Regions from separate parts of the Homo sapiens genome. Here region 1 is linked to region 2. A link means that fine-mapping ties the variant in region 2 to the expression of a gene that starts in the linked region. Tissue or cell type: tibial nerve. Region 2 holds a variant in brackets; the other region holds the start of a gene. All regions are shown on one strand. Distances are from middle to middle.

Region 1 (8,000 bases), 52 kb before region 2:
GTGTGAGGGGCTGGGGTTGACTTCCCCACCTACGTAGTGAACTGAATGTCTCATTAGGTAAAAAGGACACTGAGATGCGTTTGGGCCTGAGTGTGTCCTGGGATGGGAGGTGTTCAGGTTTTGGATGAGAATATCACACTCCTTGCTTTTGTTTGCATTCTCTTTGGTAAACAAAGAAACATGGGCTAATCTTGTAGCAAGGAATCATCAAACTAAGAAAGGACTTACTCTAGGATGGTTACCGTCAGGATACGGAGCCCACAGAAACTCCCATAAATGTTCCAGGTTAGCAACAGCCTCTGGGTGGTTTGTTTAGATTGGGGTTGTAGTCCTGAAGGATGAGGGGGTGGCCAGCATGCATGAGGGGATGAAAAGGATGTCTGCCTTCTTATGGATTCCTGAGTCACATCCACCTTTTACCATTTGAAAGAGGATTACTAGAAGTTGGAAGAAATTTACAGGGTCAGCCAGCCCAACCTTTGCCTCTAGGCAGGACTCTCTAACCTTGGACCAGACCCCAGTTCTCCACACCATCCTTAGAGTCATCTGAAAGGAGACTGCCCCACCTCCTCATGGCTCACTCTTCTAGCCAGGAAGTGTCTCCTGCAGTCTAACTTAAGTCCCTCTGGCTTCCCTGGCATATTCTTTGCTCTGGTTCTTCCTCCCCTGCATATCAATCACCTCTTCTCCAACCCCCTGGTTCTGCCCTAGGAATCCCTCCAAAAATACAAATACCACCCACACTCAGGCTTAGAGATTGTCTTTGAAATACGCTTTCTCACCAACGTTTGGCTCAAGGAGGTTTCTGAAGAGGGCACCATGCATCCTCCAAACCACCCCAAATGCGTTGCTTCCCTGGTGACTTTAGAGGCAGAAAGGATGCCTTGGGGTACACCTGTCTATGTACATGCTCCTAAGGAGTAAGTTTGGTCAGCCAGAGACGAGATGTGCAATCACCCCGTTAAGCACAATTCCTCGGAGGCCCATCCCACATGTGTCTCTATTTGAACAACTGCTGGCAGAGAAGGTGCTGGAATGGAGTTGCATAAGGAGTGAAATCTGGCAGGGGAAATGGTGGCGGCGGGAGGCTGAGGGCTGAAGCCGGTGGAGTACACGCGATGAGAGAAGGGAGTGCGAGGAAAGAAGGAGTAGAGGAAGGGAGGAGAGTAAGAGAGAAAGAGCCGGGAATGAGAGCAGACTCCTGGAGTCTGAGGCACTCATCTGCATAAGGAGTGTGCCTCTGCTTCCCTCACCGCTCATGGTGTGAGCACAGTGGTCTCTGCACCTGTGAGGCAGGTGGACCTTGGGTGACTTTGACATCATCAGGTCAGGGGCCCTTTCCTGTCTGTCTCACCTCCTGCCTCCCTCTTATTCGCTGAGGACTTCCACGGGAGATTAGGAAGGACTCTGACCTTGTGGCAAAAGCCCTGTCCATGGTTCTGCAGCTTGGCTAGAAAGGGGTTAACTGGTGGGCACCCTGGGGAGGGGCTTGGATGCTGCTGTCTTTAAGGGGAGAGCTCCCTTCTCCCAAGGCCAGGAGTGAGGGCACCTGTTGTGACCTCCAGGCCATCTCCCTGTCCAGGTGCGATCACAGCAGCCTCTCCCACAGGTGGCCCACCTTTTGCTGCACTCGATCTCCAGTGGCTCATCCGGCCCCTCTGAGTGGGACCAGGAGGTAGAGAGACTCGGAGGCTAAGTGAGCTGAGGCGTCTTTGGCCAGACGGTTGGGAGAGGAGGCCGAAACTGTTGCCCAGACGAGACCAGAACATCACCTGTGCACTGGGTTTCTTGGGCTGTTCCTCCTCCCAGCTCCTTCTGAGCAGAGGGAAAAGATGCTGAAACCCACCTTTCTCCAGGGCTGGGGCCATGGCATGCACAACCCCACTCCCTCCTGGCCTCACTGGACCCCCCCCCCCAGGACACAGGCTCAACCCCCAGGGGTCTGGGGCTAGAGGGTGCCCGTCTCCATCCCCAAGTAGCAGCAGGATTCTCCCCTTCCATAGGCACTGCCTTCTCCATGCCCCGCTGCTTCCCAGACCTGAGAGACCCTCTTGGAGAAGGTGACAGGATTCAGCTCTGGACACTCACTGGCTGGGGCTGCCCCCCACCTCCAGCCCATTATGTAAGCCCCACGGTGCTGGGCAGAAGGATTGCCCTCTCTTTCCAGAACTCCCCAGCTCTGCCCCTTCCCTTCCCCATACCATTCTGGCCCCAGCCCCTTTCCTTACTGGAAAGCCAAACTTTGTGCAAATTCTTCCCTCCCACCAGTGAGGATGGGGGGGAGGGATTTGAGGAGAAGCTAAGGTTGGGAGGGGGAAGGGAAGGAAAGGAATTTCAGCCCGGTAGCCCCAGCCTCTCGCCCTTTGGGATGTGACTGGCCTCAGGACTCTCCTCCCCGAGTCCCAGTTCCTGGACAGGCCCTTGCCCAAACTTGTGCTCCACTCTCCCCTCTCTCTTCCACAGCCCCCCTCTCCATCCAGCTGAAGCAAGACTTTGCAAAGAGGTCACCCTGCAGAGGTAGACCCTGGGTGACCTCAAAACTGGGGACTCCGGCTCAATTCCATGCAGGGACTTCTGGGGCAGGCCAGGGCCCAGGGCCTGGCTGTATGGACTGGTCCTGTCCTGGACCGGGTGCCCAGGGCCGGCCCAGGAGAAACTGCCCTCTCCACAGGCAGCTGCCACTGCCCGCTGGCCAACTGGAATTCCTGGACACACTCCTGGGGTCCAGCTTTTCGGCCAGGCTCGGCCTGAGAGAGCCCTGCGGGATGCCGCCCACGTAGACAGGGCGGAGGGGAGCCCCAGCACCCACCCTGGGGCTGAGGGGAGAAGTCAGAACGGCCCCAGCCTGCCAGTGTTCCTGTCCCTGTTCCCTCCCAAGTTACAAGGGGGATATTTACAGGAACTGAGCCGGGAGCCCCGGCCCATAACAGCACGCAGGGAAGTCCCTGGGTTGGAGGAGACAAAAGCGGTTGGCACCTACCTGGGGCGAGAGAAGGGTGTTGGCTGGGGCAGGTGGATGCTGCCCGAGTCGGTGAGCCGGGGCCGGCCGGGCCGCCAGCCCCTGTCTGGGCCGCTGTCCTTTGGGCCCTGGCGGCCTCAGCCGCTCGCTGTCCGGGTGCGGCGGCGGCCGCGGCGGCGGTGGCGGGTGAGGGCGCGTGTGTGTGAGCGCGCCCGGAGCCACTGCAGCATCTCTGCATCAAGATGTGCTCCTCCCTCTCCCAGGCTCCGCTCACTGGCTGGCTCTGGTCCTCAGCCAACGCTCGGGGGCCCTGGAGATGGCTTCCTTCTGCCCCCCTCCCACCCCACTTCCGTCCCCACCCTCCTGGCTTTACCTCATTTGCTGTCATTTAAGGACCAGGGAGCGAGCCCAGCGCGCGTCTTCCATAATGCATGGGCCGCTCATGGACAGGCCGCGGGGCGCTGTCTGGCCCGCCTGCCCTCCCGATCCTGCCCAGCCCCACTTCTAGTCCCCCTGCCCAGGGCTGAAGGGGCAGGAGAGGGGCGGGGTGAAGAGGGAAAAGAAAGTGGCTCTTACTCCTCAAACCCTGGAGACCCATGGAGCCAAAACTCCTGGTTTCCCCAGAAATCCCCTATCCGAGGAAGAGATCCAAATCAGAAATCCCAGCTTGCTGTGTGGGGCAAGTGGCAGGGAGGGGCTGTCTCTGTTGCCCGGTCCACCCCATGTTCCTCTTTATTGTTTCCCTTGTTCAAAAGTAGTTTGAGCTTTTTGTCAAAATATCTAAATATTAGAGGACATTTAAAAATACATAGTGAAAGTCCCTCAACCACTACTCTTAATAAATCTAAGTACATGCCCCCAGGTTTATTATTTTCGTGTATACAATTACATGGGTTAGTAGGGTTATTTCACACAAATGTGATTACATAAAACAGTAGGATTGGCCAAAGACTTTTAACTGTGTAACTGATCTTGGACACTTTTACGCATCAGTACGTTTGGATCCAATCCCATTTTTAAGCAACCAGCAGTGTGATGTCATGAAAAGCTCCCTGGATTAGGGGTCTGGGTGTCTGAAGCATACTCTGGGCTCCACAACCGACTGGCTGTGTGTGCTTGGCTAGGTGCCCTGCCCTCTCTGAGCCTCGCTGGTACCTGAAGGGATTAAAGATGGACACAGTCCTGCCAGCTCTGAGATTCTAAGTGCTCACCCTTGTCAGCGATGCCTTTCTCCTGCCCTGCTCCGGTCACGTGGGGGAGTGCCCAGGAAGGCTGTGGCCCGGAGGCGGAGGGACCAGCCATCTGCGGCACCAGTCGGCCCTGTCAGGCTGTCACTGTTGTCTCACCCCCCTCTGATCTGCCTGCTGTCCAGCTTGCACAGGCAAGACCGGTGAGCAGTCCAGATGCTGCAACAGCTGGCAGGGCCAGGCCAGCCTCCCAGTTTTAAATGGCTATACCTGTCAAGCCTGGATCATGGCTCCATGTCTCCCTGAGTGGAGGAGGTCCTGGGGACCTGGGCCAGAATGAGAGGGTCTGGAAAAGGAGAAGGAGTCGGGGAGGTTCTGCTGCTCAGCCTCCAAGGCTGGAATGTCTGCCCAGGTCCCACATGCGCTCCCCTCCTTTCCTTCTGAGCCCCTCCAAAGGGCTTGCCCAACTTGAGAGATAGTCTTCTTTGTTCCTGATGGGGAGGACTTGGATTTTGCTAATGATGTTTCTTAAATAATGTTGAATGCTGTTATATAGACAGACACATCAACCCCTTGCCAGGATATCTTTCCCTTCCTTCCCCTGCCCACACTGTCCTTGCCTATCTGTATGTCTGAGGGCTGGCACATTGGCTCTGAGCTCCTGAGGTGAACCTTGCTCTTTGGCACCATTCAAGTCAGCCTGGGCTCCAAAGAGAGGCTCTGCAAGTTCTCTCCTAGCAGAAAACGGCAGGAACAAGTCCTTGCCAAGAAAAGGATGCTATGTCTGCTGCAGGGGGCTGACGGGCCAGGAAATAGGCTGGCCCAGGAACCAACAGTCTGGAAATGCTTGCAAGGATTGCTTTAGACGGAGACAGCTGTCTTTGTGACTCTATTTTAGGACAGCTGCTGCCCTGTGGTGGGAGCTGGGTCTCTGGGGAGGGTCGTTAGCACAGGTGACTTGGGTCTTAAAGACTCTCAGATCTCAATGCAACCAGCATGCTCCATGTGGACTCTGGCAGACACAATAAGTGAAAACAAGAACATTTGCCAAGCCTAGACTTGGATGGGGAGACAGTTCCCAAAGTCTCATCTTCTCACTTGTCTGAAGCTCTCAGTGAAGTCTAGTATGAATGAGTTTGGGGAGATTAGGGGGATCTGCACTCCCAGTCTCTGAGATGCTCCTGTTCCTGAGGAGAGAGTGGGGTGGGCATTTGGGGGTGCAGGCTGAGTTTTGCTTGTGGGGCCCATTAGCTTGATAATAACAGAAATAATATCTGTTTTGAATGCCTCCCACATGCCGGGAGCTGTGCTAAATGCTTTACCTGAATTACTTGCGCAAGAGGTCCATGTTGTTATTATCCTCACTTTTCAGATGTTGCTCAGTAAGAGTAAGGAACTTGCTCAAAAGAAATAGTAAACAAGTGGAACCCTGGGCAACGTGGCGAAACCCCGTCTCAACAAAAAACACACAAAAATTAGCCAGTGTGGCAGTGCACACCTGTAGTCCCAGCTACCTAGGAGGCTGAGGTAGAAAGATCACCTGAGCCTGGGAGGTTAAGCCTGCAGTGAGCTGTGATCGTGCCACTGCACTCCAGCCTAGATGACAGAGTGAGGCCTGGGATCGGCCTCCAGCATCCTGGCTTAGCCACCGTGCCATGGACTCCAGCTACCTACTGTCTGTTCTTTTGAGGTGGGCAAAATAGGGGGCAGAACAGTTTCTTCTTCTTTGGTGACATCCAGAGCCCACAATCTTCAGTGCAGCTGACCATAAGGGCCACCTCTCCTTTCTGTGGCTGATCAATATGACTCCATGTTGTCCAGAGCTGGGACTCCACATCTCAAAGTTGAGTCCCCACAGACTTTCAAACAGGGCAAGAAAGGGCCAGTGAAGATAATCAGGTGGCTAGTCAAATGGCTTATAAATTTGTCCGCAAACATGTGGTGCTCCCTTGGTGGTGGTGGGTGGGGATCAGAAAGCATTTTGAGGGCCACCCAACCCTGCCCAGACCATCTGCTTCTTCCTACTGTAGCCACACAAGATTGATAGCAATGGAATCCAGTGGGTCTCTAACCGATCAAGAAGGGACCTCTAGGCCCCATCCCTGGGGACAAGTGGGGAGGAGATGAGACCCTGCCATGGCCCCAGGATGCTGCAGCTTTGCTGTCTCTTTCCTCACCACTCCCCCGCCTCACCTCTCCTTTCCTGGCCTCTCCCGCCACCAGCATCTTTGCCCAGACCCTTTTCCCAGGAGGCCATGTATTTATGGAGCAGCTCCTCTGCCTGGAATGTAGGGATCCAAGAGCCAGGGGATGCGGTCTTCAAAGTGCCAGTGACCTTTTTGGAAGCAGTGTGACAGTGGTAACAGGACTGTCCATCCACAGCTCTGGGGAAAACTGATATGGCCATAAGGAAAAGCTCTGCAGACAGACCCGTTTGACACCCAGTCCTGCTACTGAGGAGATGTGAGGCCATGGGCAAGCCACATACCTCTTCACCCAGAATATGGGGATGAAGACACATACCTCACTGAGTTGATGTGAGTGTTGAGTTACACGTGAAGTAGCTAGCACAGCAGGTGCTCAATAAATGTCAGTATTTCCCTTTTGGGATTTAGCCTCCCTCATCTGTAAAACAAGGATATGAGGCAGAGCAGTAAGGGCTGCAAGTGGTTGGGGTGGCTCTGGATTTGTAGTCAAGAGAACTGGACTCTGTCCCAGCTCTGTCACTCCTACCTGGATGACTCTGGGCAAGTAACAGAATGACACTTAATCGCCCAGATAATCCATTTCTTCACCAGTAAAATAGGAATGATCCTACTCCTATCTAGGATGGTAGTGAGGATATGTGAATTAAACATAATGGTTTTTAAAAGCACTTTGAATTGCAAAGTGCCATATCAAATACTGATGGCCATTCCCTCAGCTATGCAGTCCAAAAGGTAGGGATTATCTCATCAGTCCGTATTCTCCCAGTCCCCCACCCTCCTGTTTAGCACAGTGCCTGGTGCATGGTGGAGACTCAATAAATATTTGTTGACTGGGTGAATGAATGAAGGAGAGTAGCTATAGTAACCATTCAGAGGATGAGGAGAGAGGGAGGTAGGATGTGGGTGAAGCTTTCAGTGGGGGTGGGTGGGTGCATCTTGAATTGAGCCTGGATGGACAGAGAGGAGGTGGGGAATGTGTTTCTGGCATGGGGGCATGTGGTGTGGCAGGAGCCAAGATGTGGGGCCTGGGAAGGCCATGATTTGTGTAATGCCTGGAGAAGCCAAGTTGACCTAGCAGGGGTGCTGGAAGGAAGATCTCAATGCCCTGTCTGCATTTGCCTTCCTAATTTCATGTGAGGGCCCAGAGGGGTCTGTGGCCTGGAGGGGCCTAATTATTCTCTTTGCCATTTCAACCCAGGGCTCTTGCAGCTCCTTTTTCAGGCTTATAATAGATGATGCTAATGTCATTATTAATATTTAATAGTAATGATGCTAATAATGCCCTGCATTTATGTGGTCTCTCCAAAGAGCTCAAAGAACCCTGAGTTCTTTTTTTATGAAACAATTTGGCTGGTGTGGAAGGTGGGAGGGCAGGAGGGCAGGACAGTAGAGAGGGATTGAGTCACAAAGAAAGCAAAGCCAGAAAGGTGAAATGATTGGGCCAAGGTCACAGAGCAGTGGAGGTGGGGCTGGGCTAGGACTGGGTGCGTGGGTTCCCTGCCTGGAGCTCTGTCCTTGACTGCCCCAGGTCATCTGGGTTTAAGGAGGACGTTCCTGGTGGGGACATCTTTTGGTCCCGGTAAAAGCCATGCCATCCAGAGGATATGACAGAACAGTCTTGGGGGCAGCTGTGACCCTGGAAGTGGG
Region 2 (8,261 bases):
CAGCATTTTCCTCACCGGCCCTGCTGGGCAGAGGTAAGGATGAGAGATGGCTCTGAAGATGTTTCTACACTGCATTGTCCCCTCCCCTGATGGCCACTTCTGCCAAGTGTGGCAGAAAGGAAGCATTTTTCTCTGATGATGGCTACCTAGCTGCTTCCTGTCTGGCTCAGGCTTAGTAAGAGGGAGCAAGAGATGAGAGAGAGGAAAGGGGTCACTTTCCGGCAGCCTCCCCGGGGCTCCCACCATTGAAGTTACCATAGAGGATACAACCTCAGCTGGCTAAGGTCACTGCTGGCACATCTCCGACCCACTCATTAGCTGTGTCTATTGTCCCAAGGCAAGACAGGGCCTCCAGAGAGCTAGGGAGGGTGGAGGAAAGAAGAAAAGCCTCCGAGGGAAGGTGCAGAAGAGTCAGGCAGTGAGCTGTCAGGGGGCTAGTACAGGTGGGAACGAGAGGAGGACAAGTGTTCCATGGGGAAAACCTTCCACTGCTCAGGTCTAAGGAGATTCAGATTATTTCATCCCCTGGGGCTGAGGTGGAGGAGAGGATAGAAGAGCAACGAAGCTGAGAAGTAGGGCTTACCAACAGAGCAGCACCAGGCTGGGCAGACACATGACTGGGCTAGGATGTCATTTCCTGCCGCAATAGGAGCTACAGGTTTGGAAGCAATCCTGGCCAGTGCTCAGTGGAGACCATCAGCCTGGCGACCAAGGACAGCGGGCAGAGACTCTCTGTTAGCTAAGGGGGGATCCTGAGTGGGCTTCGGCTGGAAGCACAAGGCCCTTCCTAGATGGCAGCGTCAACCTCACAGGTTTGTGACCTAATGCACACTGGAAGGCACCCTGGCTGCGGCCAAGGGTTTTCCAGGTGGGTTTCAGGGAGCACCATGCATGAGATGGAGAACACTGAGGAGAGATGACATGTGTCATTCATCTTTCTGTCCCAGAACCTGCCACGGAACAGGGCACCTATCAAGAGCCCACCAAACATTTGCAGACCTGAGCTGGGTCAAAGAAGAGAACAGCACTTCCTTACATTCCAAGGTGGAAGGTTTAGTCCAAAAATGTCCACATGGCGTGTTGACTACCCCGGCCAAATCACAGATTGTCAGACAGACGGGCAGCAATCCTAAGAGACTACAGATACAGGTGGATGAGAGGGATTATCTTCACTGGGTGAGAGATGAACAGGGCAGTTTGGGGAAATAGTGCCCAGGTTTGGAGAGGACGAGAGGGAAGACAGCAGTGGGCCGGACGCCAGGCCCACGTCAGAAACATGGAACCCGAGTTTCGTTGCTTGGCACCTGCTCATTGTGCAGAAGGTTCTTACGCATTTAAAGCTGAGAACAGCTGATGTTATCAGCACATCTCATTTCCAAAAAAGTGCAATCTGCCTCCACTGCCATGTCACACGGAAGCTGGAGCCCAGGAAACATTTGATTGAGACCGTGAGCTCATGCTGGATGAGTGTAGATCTTTTCTAAATGGGAAGTAGGAAGTGGGGTGATTGCAAAGATACCTCTCACCCACTCAGTAGAGGGACAGCACAGGCCGGCACAGATGCCCACTGAACAAGACAGACTGCCTGCCACCAGGCCCACCTGCCTTGGGTCCCAGGGTGCCAGAACAGGGGAGGTGGACGGGGAGCTGCTTCCCCATTGAGCTTGCAGCTGATTCGCCTGGTGCCCTCCCTGCGTTTCCTCTTCGTCACGGGAGAGACTTACGTAAACTTCAAGCAGGAAGTCAGGGAGGCCCCCAGTGTGGCAAGGATGGCTCTCACCCTGTTCCCCAGGCCTGGGATCACCTCTCTGCCTCACATCTTCACAGGGGTGTTCAGACCTTGTGGGGAGGCACTGGGGTGGTGGGTGAATGTTGAGGACTGAGGGAGAGAGGGAAGGATGATGGCAGCTCACCATCCACAGATCTGGCCGCAAAACATACACAAACTGAAGGAAGCAGGGTATGCAACAGAAATAGAATCAACCTAGGATGGGGGTGGGGATGAATAAGCAAAGGCGAGGAGGAAATCGAATTGGGCAAGGTGGCATCCCCTTCATAAGCCAACCCTCAGATTCCTGGCCCGGTCCTCAGCCCTCCCTCCACTGCCTGGCATGTAAGGAGGCTCTGCTGAGCACTTGCTTGTAGCCTTTGCTCTGCCAGGGTGAATCCTGTTCTCATTTCCCATCTGATGTAATTCAGGCTCAGAGGAGGGCCTGGAAAGGAACCCTGGGGTCCCCTGCCTCGTTTCTCCAGCCTGGGGACAGGCCAACTGTGATGAAGAGCCCTTTGATGACCCTCAAACCCATGACATGAGGACTGGAGAGGAGTAACTTGATTAGCAGGTCCTAAGCCCAGAGCTGCCCAGCACCTTAGTCCACTGTAGATCTACCTCCCATACCCCGAGAGTGGAGACTGTTCTTAACGATAAAGACTTGGAAAAGCTGGGTTTCTGAAGGGTGAGGAGATAATCAGCCCACGGTGCCTGCTGAGACTCCAGGAACTGGAGCACCTGGCCCTATCCATGGACATGCTTGCTTGTTCTCACTGAGCAGAGCCCGTGGTGGCTGGCAGAGCCGGTGCCGGGCCCCCATGCAGCATGCGAAGCTGGCATGCACAGCATGTTCACCCTTTCAGGAGATGGCAGCCCCACCAGGAGCCAGCTGTCCCTGCTCCTGCTGCAGCGCGCCTTCTAGGGCCACAGCTGGGGACACTGCTCTGAGCTGTCAAGCCCAGGCAAGGACTCAGGTGGTTAACGGGAAGTAATCTACTCAGTGTCAGAATGAAACTGCAGCTCCAGAGAGCAGGTCAGGGCCGGTGTGTGTGTGACCCCTGCTGAGCCATTCTCCTACTCAGCAGGGGGCAAATAGTTTGGGAAGGGGGGAAAGTGGGCTTGCTCTCCTCTGGTCCCATCCTCCACACACATCCCTCTTGACAGTCTGGCTTCCCAACCACTGAAAGGGTGAGTCTGGAGCATGCTTTCAGCCTGAGCCTCTCCCTCCTTGTCCGCCCTGGCTGGGCTGGGCTCCGCCTGCGCTGCCCCATGCCATGCCCATTACCTCCGCGGCTGGTACGGTACCTGCGGTTGGAGTAGCTTCAGAACACAGCGCCCAAGATGGCCAGACAGAGGGAGAAAGGATGGAAAAGGGAAGAGAAAACAGAGCACAAGTGAGACCACAGGACAAGGAAAGCAGGGAAGGTTCCAGCCCAAACCTTATGCAGACGGCGTGGCCAGGTGCTGGCTGCTGGCCTGAGGATGCCAACTGGCATTCAGGGTTCACGGTCAACTCCACCTGAGTCAGGCATGTTCCTACAGAAACCTTTCCACCTGGGCCTTGGAGACCTTTCTAACACACTGTTTCTACCTCGATTCAAGGACTGGACATCTAAAAGGTGGCTGCAGGGACAGTCCACTCAGAGCATTATGTTCCCAGCTCTGTCCTCAACAGCATGTCCTGCTCTGGCTAGGTTGGCATGACCTTTGAGCAGGCTGGGTGACGCTCCATGATGCCAGGAATTGAGGGGATAAGGAGTAGGTGGTGTGGGAGGACACCAACTCCAGTCAAAAGGATGGTTCCTGTCTTTGGGGGAAGATGCTGAATAGTGGGATGGATAGGAGAGAGGGAGCATGTTCAGCTGCACCCACTCCACACCATCGCAACCTTGGAAGGCGGGAACTTTGAAGGATGGAGCCTGGAGCCCCTCTCCTGGTATTCCGTCACTCCAATTCTTCCCCTCCAGTTGGACTTTATGAAGTTAGAAACCCAAGTTTGGACTGAGAGCCCTTTCTTTTTTCTTTCTTTTTCTTTTTTTTTTTTTTTTGGACTGAGAGCCCTAAGTGAAATTCTTGAATTTTCTGCAAAGCCCTAAGTTAAGAAAAAAGCCTCTATTTGTCCTTTTGTCCCCTGGGGCTGCAGAACATTCTCTGTGGTGGTTACTGGGGCTGGACAATAGG[G/A]CTTTGTTATCTGATGTTCTGTATTGGGGTGCACATAGGGAGGGAAGAAGGGGCTCTCTTTATCTATCTATTTGCAGAATTGAGTAATCAAGAAAGTGCATCATGGCCTGGCCTGGCCTGGCCTTTGGTGACAGACACACATCAGCCACTAACCTAAGTCCCCCTGCCCTAATAAACTTCCCGAGTGCCCAGGGGCTTGGGAGAGTGCAGAAGAGCACAGCAGGAGGGAGAGCTGGTTGTGTGACTCACTCCTGGTTTCTGAGACCAGAGAGGGATGCAGAGCGGGCTGTCAGCCTTTCTCTGCTTCTGCCTGGCCCCTCTTCTCCTGCCTCAGCGCTGGTCTACTGGCTAGAGTGGTGGGCTGGGGAAGGATGTGGGCAGCTTGTGAAGCTGCCTGGGATCCCGGGGTGACGCAGCGGGCCTGGTAGCCCCAGAGAAGGCAGCACTGATGCTCTCCTGGAATGCGGGTAGGGGTGGTATTCAGAAGACCCCGTCTGGGCCTGGGCCAGGCCACGGGACCTGACCCTTCTGTGGAAAGCACCAGACACGATGACTTGTCAGCTTCCAGAGTGCCCACTCACATCACCTCTTCTCTGGAGTCTTCCCGTGAAGACTGAATCCCCTTCTCTGCCCAGCCACTGCGCCCCCTCATTTAGACATGCAATTAGATATTCTTATAGATGACTCCCCCTCTAGATGGTGTGAGCTTCTTGTTACCTTTGTATATCCCTTGTGTGTGGCAGTGTCTGGCACCTCACATTGTGGGTACTCAAGAAATGGCTGTTGAATAGACCATTGTATCTCTGGAGACACACGGGGGTCCCCAGCCTTTCCCAGAGGGTGTGCCAGTATTGAGGCTTTTGCAGCCTTGCCTCCTCGAGAGGTCCCAGACTGCACATTCCCCTGATGCCAGTGCGTGTGCGGGTGAGCCTGGAGCCCCCTCTAGTGGAGTCCTCAGGCAGGTGCAGCTCTGGTGGGGCTGAAATGCTGCCAGATGACGCCTGGACCCAGGTGATGAACTCATTTGCTCTTTGTGAAGCTGGCTTGGCAAATGGCTGTTTCCTAACTCCTCCTCCTCTCTGCAGCCTGACAACGCATCCAATTCAGGCTGCAAGGAAGGACCACATTCTCTGCTCTACTCATGATGCCAGTAACAGCGTCATCCTGACGGTTTCCCCTACCTCCTTGAACCCATGTGCCTTCGAAGAAAGAAGGTTGTCCCCAGAGCCCTCATGGGAGCACTCACAATCATATTCCTGCCTCCCTCAAGAGGTGAACACTCACTGTTCTTTGGAGTTCATTATGATTTCTCTCATTTCTCAACTCATGCTCTCTTCCTTATTCCTCTACAAGAAGGAAAGATGATAGATGTCAAGTGACTGAGCAAGTCAGGGCAAGTGGGGACCCAGGTGTGACCACAGTGGTCCAAGGAGAGCTGAGCTCCAGATACAATGCCAGCACCTACCTCTCACACATAAGATGGGTTCTCACCTTCCGAGGGCTTGAGGACTTGCAAGTCTCATTTCCTCTCCATCCCAGGCAGCCAGCTACAGATCTCAGTGTTTCTCTAGGCCTCGGAATTAGCTGGGACCTTTTACCCCAGGGGCTGCTGCCATGCACCTACCTTCATTCGGGGGTGCTGGTGACTCCTCTGTGACGGCTTCCCCAGAGCCCACCTGCGTCCTGGCGCTGAGGGTAAAGCGGTAGCGTGACACGGGGTCCGTTCTTTGCACCGTGAACTTGGTCTGATTGGGAGAGAAGTTTTCCACTATCTGCTTTCCTACTTTGGTCCCGTTAACTGGGGAGAGAGAGGTAAGTGGAATTAAACTTTAGCAACATTTATTGATGGGTTATATAATCTGCAAGCTGGAGGAAGAACACTTTCCTGACTTTGCTGGAAAGGGAAATGATGGCACCTGCCTGGTGATCTTAAAGGCTTGGTTCAAAGGCAGAACACTCGGCAAGAACTCCCTCCGGGCTCTTTGATTACACCCAGGGTTAATCCTTCTTCACTGATCCTGTTGTCTCTAGCTCACTGCAGAGTTATGTGGCTGATTCAGAAAGATTCCGTTTATATTCTTAAGCCCTTTCAACAAGGACAAAACTCTTCACTTTCTTTCTTCCTTTCAAACAGAACTAGGACAACGCCACTAGGCCTTTTGATTCTTAATGCCTCCTTTGTAAAGTGCCTATTCAATGGACCTCAAAGGGTGAAAGGGTCTGGTCCAGAGATCAATTCAGAACAGCATACAAGCACAGAGTTGGCTATTAAAATTGCTAACAACACAACATTTGGCTCTTTGAGTTTCCTAACGAGGTACGTTACCTACTTTTGAAGGCCTAAAGTGTTTCAAATGTAATGGCACTCCTGTCCCTGCATGGTGATGCTGAGCTCTTGAGGTGGGGTCTTTCCAACCCAGGCTCCTGATTCGGGTCACCCCACAGTCACCGGGCAGCTCTACATGCAGCTGCCTTATCATAAATGACATCTTGTCAAGGGGTGTCCTGACTGTGGACTCCTGTGAGTATACTATCTACCCCATCAGGTGGAAGCTCCAGAGCTTGAGGAACTCTCTCTCCTAGACTCTGTACGTGTTGGAGACTACAAAAGATCCCTAAAGGCATGGCTGTCTGCTTCATTAGACTGGAGGTCCCTTTGTCTCATCAGTGAGACTAGAAGCTCCCTGCAGGCAGAACTATGAAAGGAGAGCAGGGATTGAGTCCCATCTGCCTCCCCTAATCCTATTGGGAACTGTTTCGTTGGCCCCTCCATCCCTCCACAATGCCATCTGCACCCACAGGCTTTCTACCTTGAGTCCTTAGGAAAAGTGGTGAGAATGGGGTTTCTGGTTCCCAGATTATCTAAGAGAAAGGGAAGGGCAGAACGTACAGGCCACATATTTGAGAGTGTATCCAATCATGATCCCATTTGGATGCTCAGGATGATCCCATTCCAGGTTGATTGTCTCCAGGTTGGGCTGCCGGACTCGGAAACGCCTAGGGGCACTGGGTACTTGGGGAAGGAGGAGAGAGCAGGGGAGATGAGGGGGAGGGGGCAGGGAGGATGAGGAAAACACAAAAAACAAAGCACAAGTATGAAGGCATTGACCTCTGGACAACCCCCATGCTCGACACTGCTAAACTGAAGCCTGGGAGAACCGTGAGACGACCGGAGCCCATTGCCCCATCCAGGATGCTATTTCCTTCAGGTCTGAGGACAAACATAGCTCAGACTCTGCTATTTAAGAGAGGAAGAAGTAAATCAGGTTTTCTTCTAGCAACTACTCTGGATTCAGCACATGTTAGGCTCTGATTCTGCAAAGATACCTCGAAATTGGGCAGAGCCATTCCTAGGTAGAGAACCACTTACAGCTGTTTTGTACAGAGGCTGCAGTTCCCTATCCTCAGATAAGGATTCTCATCACTGGGTCCAGGCAGCAGGCCCAGGCTTCTGAGCTGAGAATGTTGGGTTCAGGGGTAAGGAGACAGAAAGCCAGGGTGGAACATCCGGAAGAGGTGGGAGGGTGGGAGTGTTGGGGAGAGGCCAATGATGAAAACCAAACCAAGGGGAGGGAAAGACAGGGATAAAGAGAACAAGAGGGAAGAACAGAGGACAGGAGGAAGAGAAGAGGAAAAATGGGGAAAATAACAATTAAAGAGGGAGGGAGGAGAAACGGAGGAGGATGAAACAGATGCAAAGCAGATAAAAGAAGACTGGCAAGAACAAGGAGATGAACCAGGAACTTTGCAGTCATCTGTTAATTCATGAACTTGAATTTATGTGAAACAAAAAATAGGGGTTTTGACCCCAGGGCCATGTGAAACCATAGGCCTGCAGAAGGCGGGGCTATACTTGGGTATCCCTCTGCAGAGCCACCGCACACACAGGCCGACTATTTCAGTGACGGCTTCTTGAGAACGTGGGGGGAGAACCGTGAAGGTGTTGGGTGCTGGCAAACAAATCAGATGGTTCCAGGCAGTCAGGATGGACGTGCTGCCTTCTGCCTCGGAAGGTGGTGGGGTGGCCCAGGTGCCCGCCGTGCCCTCGGGGATCAGTCTGCATAACCCGTCTGGAATTATGTCAGCAGACCTCACAGGTCTTCTCTTGAGATACAACCTCCTCGCAGGGCAGGTCACCTTGGCGATGGTGGTCTGGGAATGGCTGTAGTGGCTCGGCTTGCAGGTCATCCGCTCCTGGAGGCCTCGCAGAAGTCACCTTGTGCCATCCATGCTGAGCCACGCTGGAGTTTCTCCAGGCCCAAGGTGTGTGCCACCCTTCTCCTGCCCCACCCTGAAGAGCTGCAGGCCA

Direction of the effects. Alleles are on the strand shown, and positions count from the first base shown. SD is a standard deviation of normalised expression in the study named.
With allele A in place of G in region 2, the expression in tibial nerve of the gene that starts at base 3,163 in region 1 is lower (moderate effect, 0.75 SD a copy in GTEx).

The links. PIP is the estimated chance that this variant, and not a neighbour inherited with it, causes the effect.
Region 1: CNTN2 starts here. The variant in region 2 is fine-mapped to the expression of CNTN2 in tibial nerve (GTEx, PIP above 0.99). The same link has a PIP of 0.9 or more in esophagus muscle, gastroesophageal junction, sigmoid colon and transverse colon.

Annotation. Positions count from the first base shown.
Region 1 is chr1:205,038,375-205,046,374 of GRCh38, reverse strand. It overlaps CNTN2 (contactin 2), which reads right to left and starts at 3,163. Exons shown (of 23, transcript NM_005076.5): 1 at 2,981-3,163. RefSeq lists cis regulatory regions at 3,305, 3,397 and enhancers at 3,233-3,377, 3,325-3,469.
Region 2 is chr1:204,986,122-204,994,382 of GRCh38, reverse strand. It overlaps NFASC (neurofascin), which reads right to left. Exons shown (of 30, transcript NM_001005388.3): 22 at 6,843-6,965; 23 at 5,577-5,750; 24 at 3,077-3,091. Among named protein-coding and RNA genes, the nearest start is that of CNTN2, 53 kb to the left of the region's middle. RefSeq lists an enhancer at 4,659-4,748. The variant G/A (reference allele first, on the strand shown) is at 3,953.